Linked DNA regions of Homo sapiens. The protein of the gene in region 2 interacts with the protein of the main gene of each other region in a biochemical or structural test. Each region holds a gene or a part of one and is shown on either strand. Other genes may lie near its edges.

Region 1 (3,654 bases), on a different chromosome or scaffold from region 2:
AACCTATGTAAGTTGGGAAATTGAGTTTGAGTTTATACTTGAAAGATCAGTGAAGATAAAAACTTCCTTTAGGCCTGATGCAGTGGCTCATATCTGTAATCCCAGCACTTTGGGAGACTGAGGCAGGTGGCAGTTGACATCAGCCTGGCCACCATGGCAAAATCCCATTTCTACTAAAAATCCAAAAAAATTAGCTGGGCGTGGTGTTACACGCGCATAATCCCACCTACTCCGGAGGCTGAGGCTGAGAATCCCTTGAACCTGGGAGGTGGAGGCTGCAGTGAGCCAAGATCACACCACTGCACTCTAGCCTGGGTGACAGAGCGAGAGCATTTCAAAGGAAAAAAAAAAAAAAACTTTAGAATGTTTGAAGTATTTTTATGCCTAGTGTATTTACAATGTAATAAGAAAATACTGTGCTCATAATTGATATGTAAACCTTCTTGTATGTAGTTCCTTATAAAGATACCTTTTTTTTTTTTTTTTTTGAGACAGAGTCTCGCTCTGTTGTCCAGGATGGAGTGCAGTAGTGCAATCTCGACTCACTGCAACTTCTGCCTCCCGAGACCAAGCGATTCTCCTGTCTCAGTCTCCCGAGTAGGTGGGACTACGGGCGCACGCCACCACGCCCAGCTAATTTTTGTATTGTCAGCAAGATGGGGTTTCACCATATTGGTCAGACTGGTCTTGAGCTCCTGACCTCAGGTGATCCACCTGCCTCATCCTCCCAAAGTGCTGGGATTACAGGCGTGAGCCACTGTGCCCAGCAAGATACCATATACTCTTATTTGAAGAATTTTGCTGAAATCACCCTACATGAACTTATGAATTGTGTTAAATAATTTATAAACTGGCATCTTCTATATTTGAACACTAGTGCCCCTTCAGGATACAGGGGAATTTTAAAAGGTAATCCTTTTGGAGAACTTCTTTAGCAAAACTGCATACAAAATAGAAAATCATAGGCTGGGCGTGGTAATCCAGCACTTTGGGAGGCCAAGGCTGGAAGACCAGTCTGGACAACATAGTAAGACCTCATCTGGTTTTTTTGTTTTGTTTTGAGGTGGAGTTTTGCTCTTATTGCCCAGGCTAGAGTGCAGTGGCGCAATCTCGGCTCACTGCATCCTCCGCCTTCCAGTTTTAAGCGATTCTTCTGCCTCAGCCTCCCAAGTCACTGGGATTACAGGACCTCGTGAACCACCCGCCTCAGCCTCCCAAAGTGCTGGGTTTACAGGCATGAGCCACTGCGCCTGGCCCAGACCTCATCTCTTAAAAAAAAATTAGGTGGTTGTGGTGGCACATACCTGTAGTCCAGGCTATTTCAGTGACAGAGGTGGGAGGATTGCTTGAGCTTGGCAGGTCTAGGCTGCAGTGAGCCATGATCTCATCGCTGCACTCCAGTGTGGGTGACAGAATGAGACCCTGTCTCAAAACCACAAACAAACAGAATCATGCTTCAGTTTGGTGGTTTTGAACAGTATTCTTTTCTTTTTTTTTTTTTTTTTTGAGAGTCTCGCACTGTTGCCCAGGCTGGAGTGCAGTGGCACCATCTCGGCTCACTGCAACCTCTGCCTCCTGGGTTCAAGCGATTCTCCTGCCTCAGCCTCCCAAGTAGCTGGGACTACAGGTGCGTGCCACCGTGCCCAGCCAATTTTTGTATTTTTTGTAGAGACGGGGTTTCACAATATTGGCCAGGATGATCTCGATCTCTTGACCTCGTGATCCGCCTGCTTCGGCCTCCCAAAGTGCTGGGATTACAGGTGTGAGCCACTGGTGCCTGGCCTTGAACACTATTCTTATGCATATCTTATTTAACTTTTCTGCAATTGCAAAATTTTGCCTTTTTTTTTTTGAGACAGGCTTTTGCCCTGTTGCCCATGCTGAAGTGCAGTGGGAGGATTATGATCATGGCTCACTGCATCCTCTGCCTCCCAGGCTCAAGCAGTCCTCCCACCTCAGGCTCCCAGGTAGTTGGGACTATAGGCTTGTGCCACTGGGCGATTCTTTTTTTTTTTTTTTTTTTTTTTGAGACGGAGTCTCGCTTTGTCGGTCAGACTGGAGTGTAGTGACATAATCTCGGCTCACTGCAACCTCCACCTCCCGGGTTCAAGCAATTCTCCTGCCTCAGCCTCCTGAGTAGGTGGGATTATAGGCACCTACCACCGTGCTCGGCTAATTTATTTTTCGTAGAAACGGGGTTTTACCACGTTGGCCAGGCTGGTCTTGAACTCCTGAGCTCAGGTGACCCACCCGTCTCGCCACCTCGGCCTCCCAAAGTGCTGGGATTACAGGCATGAAGCACTACGCCTGGCTTTTCTTTTCTTTTTTTTTTTTAAGATGGAGTTTTCCTCTTGTTACTGAGGCTGAATGCAATGGCGCAATCTAGGCTTACTGGAACCTCCGCCTCCCAGGTTCCAGTGATTCTCCTGCCTCAGCCTCACAAGTAGCTGGGATTACAGGCATGCACCACCACGCCTGGCTAATTTTGTATTTTTAGTAGAGACGGGGCTTCACCATGTTGATCAGGTTGGCTGCTCTGAAACTCCTGACCTCAGGTAATCCACCTGCCTTGGCCTTCCAAAATGTTGGGATTATAGGCGTGAGCCACTGCACCTGGCCACCATGCAAATTTTTTAATTTCTTTTTTTTTGAGATGGAGTCTTGCTCTGTTGCCCAGGCTGGAGTGCAGTGGCATGATCTCAGCTCACTGCAACCTCTGCTCCTGGGTTCAAGCAATTCTCCTGCCTCAGCCTCTTGAATAACTGGGATTACAGCGCCTGCCACCTAGCCTGGCTAATTTTTTGTATTTTTATTTATTTAATTAATTAATTTTTTTTTTTTTTTGAGACAAGAGTCTCGCTCTTGCAATGGCACGATCTCGGCTCATTGCAACCTCCACCTCCCGGGTTCATGCAATTTTCCCCCCTCAACCTCCGGCTGGAGTAGCTGGGACTACAGGTGTGTGCCATTGTGCTCAGCCAATTTTTGTGTTTTTAGTAGAGACGGGGTTTCACCATGTTGGACAGGCTGGTCTCGAACTCCTGACCTCAGGTGATCTTCCACCTCAGTCTCCCAAGGTGCTAGGATTACAGGCGTGAGCCACAATACTTGGCCTTTGTTTTTAAGTAGATGATGGTTATATACTGTTTTTCATCCCTTTTATGCCACTGATACTTACTGAGCAGCACCTACTATGTGCAAGGGATAGACTGTGTAACTAAAACAGTCTAGGTTCCTATATCTCCTGAAGTGTGTTTTTTAGTAAGACAGTAAGTAATTACAGATTTGGGTAAGTATTAAAGGAAATTAAAAAGCGGTGCTTTTTTAAAGCTATTCCAGGAAGTTCAAGGGTGTAGGTTGGGGCATTTTAGGTCGGTTTTGTTGTTGTTGTTGTTGTTTTTGATATTGAATCTGGTCTGTCACCCAGGCTGGAGTGCTAGGGCACGATCTTGGCTCACTGCAAACTCCGCCTCCCAGGTTCAAGCGATCCTCCTGCCTCAGCCTCCCGAATAGCTGGGATTACAGGCGGATGCCACCACACTCGGCTAATTTTTGTATTTTCAGTAGAGGCGGGGTTTCACCATATTGGCCAGGCTGATCTTGAACTCCAGACCTCAGATGATCTGCCTTGGTCTCCTAAAGTGTTGGAATTAC
Region 2 (3,654 bases):
GACTGGCTTATTTCACTAAATGTAATGTCCTCAAGGTTCTAGCATGCTGTAGTTTATGTTAGAATTTCTTTCCTTTTAAAGGCTAAATAATACAATAGTATACATTTTTAAAGAAAAATAGTAATCTTTTGCTCACTCCACTACTCATCCCTCAATCTCACTTTCAAGAGGCAACAACCTTAATTATTTTAGCTGTTTCTTCTGGTTTTACTTCTATATTTCTGTGTTATAGGATACCACATTTTGCTTATCCATTGGACACTTGGGTTGCTCCCACATTTTAGCTATTGCGAATAATTCTGTGGACACGGGTATACACGTATCTCTTTGAGACCCTGCTTTTCAATTCTTCTGGCTGTATACCCACAAGTGGAATTGCTGGATCACATAGTCATTCTGTTTTTAGTATTTTGAGGCATCACCATACTGTTTTCCGTGGCAGCTGCATTTTACATTCCCTTCAACAGTGCACAAGGGTTCCAGTTTCTCCACATCCTTAACAACACTTTTATTTTCCTTTTTTTTTTATAGTGGCCATTATAATGGGTGTCAGGTGGTATCTTATTGTAGCTTTGATTTGCATGTCTGTAATGATGGTGATATTGTGCATTTTCATGTGCTTTTTGGCCATTTATGTATCTTTCAAGAAATGTATAGCCAAGTCTCTTGCCCATTTTTGAATTGGTTTGTTTTATTGTTGTTGAGTTTTAGGAGTTCTCTGTATATTCTGGATATAATCCCTTATCAGATATATGAATGTGCAAATATTTTCTCCCACTCTGTGGTTTGCCTTTTTTACTCTGTTGATAGTGTCTTTTGATGTACAACTTAACATTTTTTCATGAAATTCCAATTTGTTTATTTTTTGTTGTTGTTGCCTATGCCTTTGGTGTCATATCCAAGAAATCATTGCTAAACTTCATGCTGTGAAGGTTTTGCCCTGTGTTTTCCTTTAAGAATTTTATAGTTTTAGGTCTTACATTTAAGCCTGATCTCTTTTGAGTTAATTTTCGTATATGGTATTAGGTGAGTGTCCAGCTTTGTTCTTTTGTTTGTGGATATCCAGTTTTTCCCCACCATTTGTTGAAAAGCCTGTCCTTTCCCTCACTGAATGATCTTAGCACCCTTGTCAAAAAGTATTTGACCATGTATGTGAGGTTTTATTTCCAGGTTCTCTGTTCCAAGGTCTCCAACCCTCAGGCCGTGGACTAGCACCAGTCCACAGCCTGTTAGAAACCAGGTCGCACAGCGGGAGGTGAGCAGCAGGAGGTGAGCAGCAGGAATTCGAGCATTACAGCCTGAGCTCCACCTCCTGTCAGATCAGCAGTGGCATTAGATTCTCATAGGTGCAGGAACCCTACTGTGAACTGTGCATGTAAGGGATCTAGATTGCATGCTCCTTACGAGAATCTAATGCCTGATGATCTGAGGTGGAACAGTTTCATCCAGAAACCATTCCCCTGGCCTGTGGGAAAATTGTCTGCCATGAAACTGGTCCTGGCCAAAAAGGTTGTGACTGTTGATTTATTCCATTGGTCTAGATGTCTGTCTTTATGCCAGTATCACAGTTTTGATTACCGTAGCTATGTAATATGTCTTGGAATCAGGAAGAGTGAATTCTCCAGCTTTAATTATTTTGTAAGATTGTTTTGGCTATTTGGGGCCCTTGAGATTCCACGTGAATTTTAGAATGAGTTTTTCTATTTCTGATAAAAAAAAAAAATTGGGATTTTGAGAGGAATTGTAGTGAATCTGTAAATTTGTTTGGGTAGTATTGATATCTTAGCAATATTAAGTCTTTCTTTTCCCACATAGGCTGATGGGGAAAAAAAAAATTAAGTCTTCCAGTACATGAACATGAGCTGTGTTTCTATTTATTTATGTGTTCTTTAATATCTTTCAGCAATGTTTTATAGTTGTTATTGTACAGGTTTTCATTTTCGTGGTTAATTTTGAAATATTTTTTCTTTTTGATACTATTGTAAAAACTACATAATTTCCTTTTCATCATATTTATTATTAGTTTATAAAAATGCAATTGATTTTTGCGTGTTGACTTTGTATTCTGCTACTTTACTGAATTCATTTATTCTAACAGGTTTTTTGTGTGAAATCTTTAAGGTTTACTGTATATAAGAGCCTACCATCTGTGAACAGGAATAATTTTACTTCTTTCTTTTCTGTTTGTATGCCTTTTATTTCTTTTTCTTGCTTAGTTGCTCTGGCTAGAACTTACTCAAGCATTCTTATGGTGTAGAAATCAGATTGCTTCCGTGTGAATGGGAATAGATACAAATCTTATTTATTGATCCTGATTTTGTATTTTGATACTTTTCATATTTTTATAAAGGGACTTACTTTCCATTTAATGTAGCTTTTAAACTGATTTTCTAAGAAATAAACCTTTTATATTTAATTTTATTTCTAAAGTGGCACAGGGAGTTTGACATGCAGTTTTTTAGCTTTTATTTAATGCCCATCAATTGCTTACAATGTGACTAACAAATTTTTGCATTGCTGTGTTATAATTCTTACTGCCTAATGAAGTTATTTACAAATATATTTGAATTTCTTTATGAAATAAATTGGGAAGTAACATTTCATAGTTGATGTGGAAGATTGCTTTCTTTTCTTTCTTGGGAAAACCCTTTTTATTTTCAGTCATGTGAAAACACTTAAACATATCAGTGTGCTTTTTTACCTGTCTTACAGGATTGTACTGCAGCCTGTCTTGGTTAAATCGGAAGGTTTTGAGGGGTAGAGCTAGTTAGTGGGGTTAGTATGGCCTGACTAGTGGCAGGCAATGTGGCTATTTTTTTTTTTTTTTCAATTTTTTGCTTTTTGCTTTATTTATGTTTTAGCAAAACTGGTGATCCAAGCAAGTGGAGTATTGCATTTTATCTCTTTATTACGTTCACTTTGAAATAAGGATTGAGTGTTTGTTCATGTTTTATTATTTGTTTGTACAAAGTCCTATGAGTAGAATTATTGGATCAAGTAAAAAGAACGTTTTAGACTCTTGATAACATATTGCCAAATTATTTTAGTGCCAGTTTAAATTCCACAAGCAAAGTGAGAGAATGCTTGTCATATCTCATTACTTTTTGCCTTTACTGGGTGCTATTGAAAACAGATCTCTGTGATTTTTAGATGAAAACTTGTATCTTGCTTAAATTTTTATTTTTAAAATTAGTAACAGGAGCAAGTATTTTATTTTATTCGATTTTATTTGTTTTTTTTTGGAGGGGGGGGACAGAGTCTTGTTCTGTCGCCCAGGATGGAGGGCGGTGGCGCTGTCTCGGCTCACTGCGGCCTCCACTTCCCCGGGTTCAAGCAGTTCTCCTCTCTCAGCCTCCCGAGTAGCTGAGGCTACAGGCATGTGCCACCACACCGGGCTAATTTTGTATTTTTAGTAGAGATGGGGTTTCGTTACGTTGGCCAGGCTGGTCTTGAACTTCTGACCTGAGGTGATCCACCCGCCTTGGCCTCCCAAAGTGCTGGGATTACAGGTGTGATCCACTGCACCTGGCCAACAAGAGCAAGTATTTTAAATGCTTATTACCCGGTTGTCTGTCTTTTATGATTTTACTTTCATCTTTAGCCTTGTTTTTAAAGAGTTGATTTATCTGGTTAACGTATTTCCCTAATTTGTTT

The links.
Region 1: the proteins of PIAS2 (region 2) and SUMO2 form a complex in vitro, tested with the Homo sapiens proteins (4 studies listed by BioGRID).

The regions. Positions count from the first base shown.
Region 1 is NC_000017.11:75,176,362-75,180,015, reverse strand, and holds part of SUMO2 (small ubiquitin-related modifier 2 isoform a precursor), read left to right. Parts: intron 1-3,654. UniProt on the Homo sapiens protein: Ubiquitin-like protein that can be covalently attached to proteins as a monomer or as a lysine-linked polymer.
Region 2 is NC_000018.10:46,886,433-46,890,086, reverse strand, and holds part of PIAS2 (E3 SUMO-protein ligase PIAS2), read left to right. Parts: intron 1-3,654. UniProt on the Homo sapiens protein: Functions as an E3-type small ubiquitin-like modifier (SUMO) ligase, stabilizing the interaction between UBE2I and the substrate, and as a SUMO-tethering factor.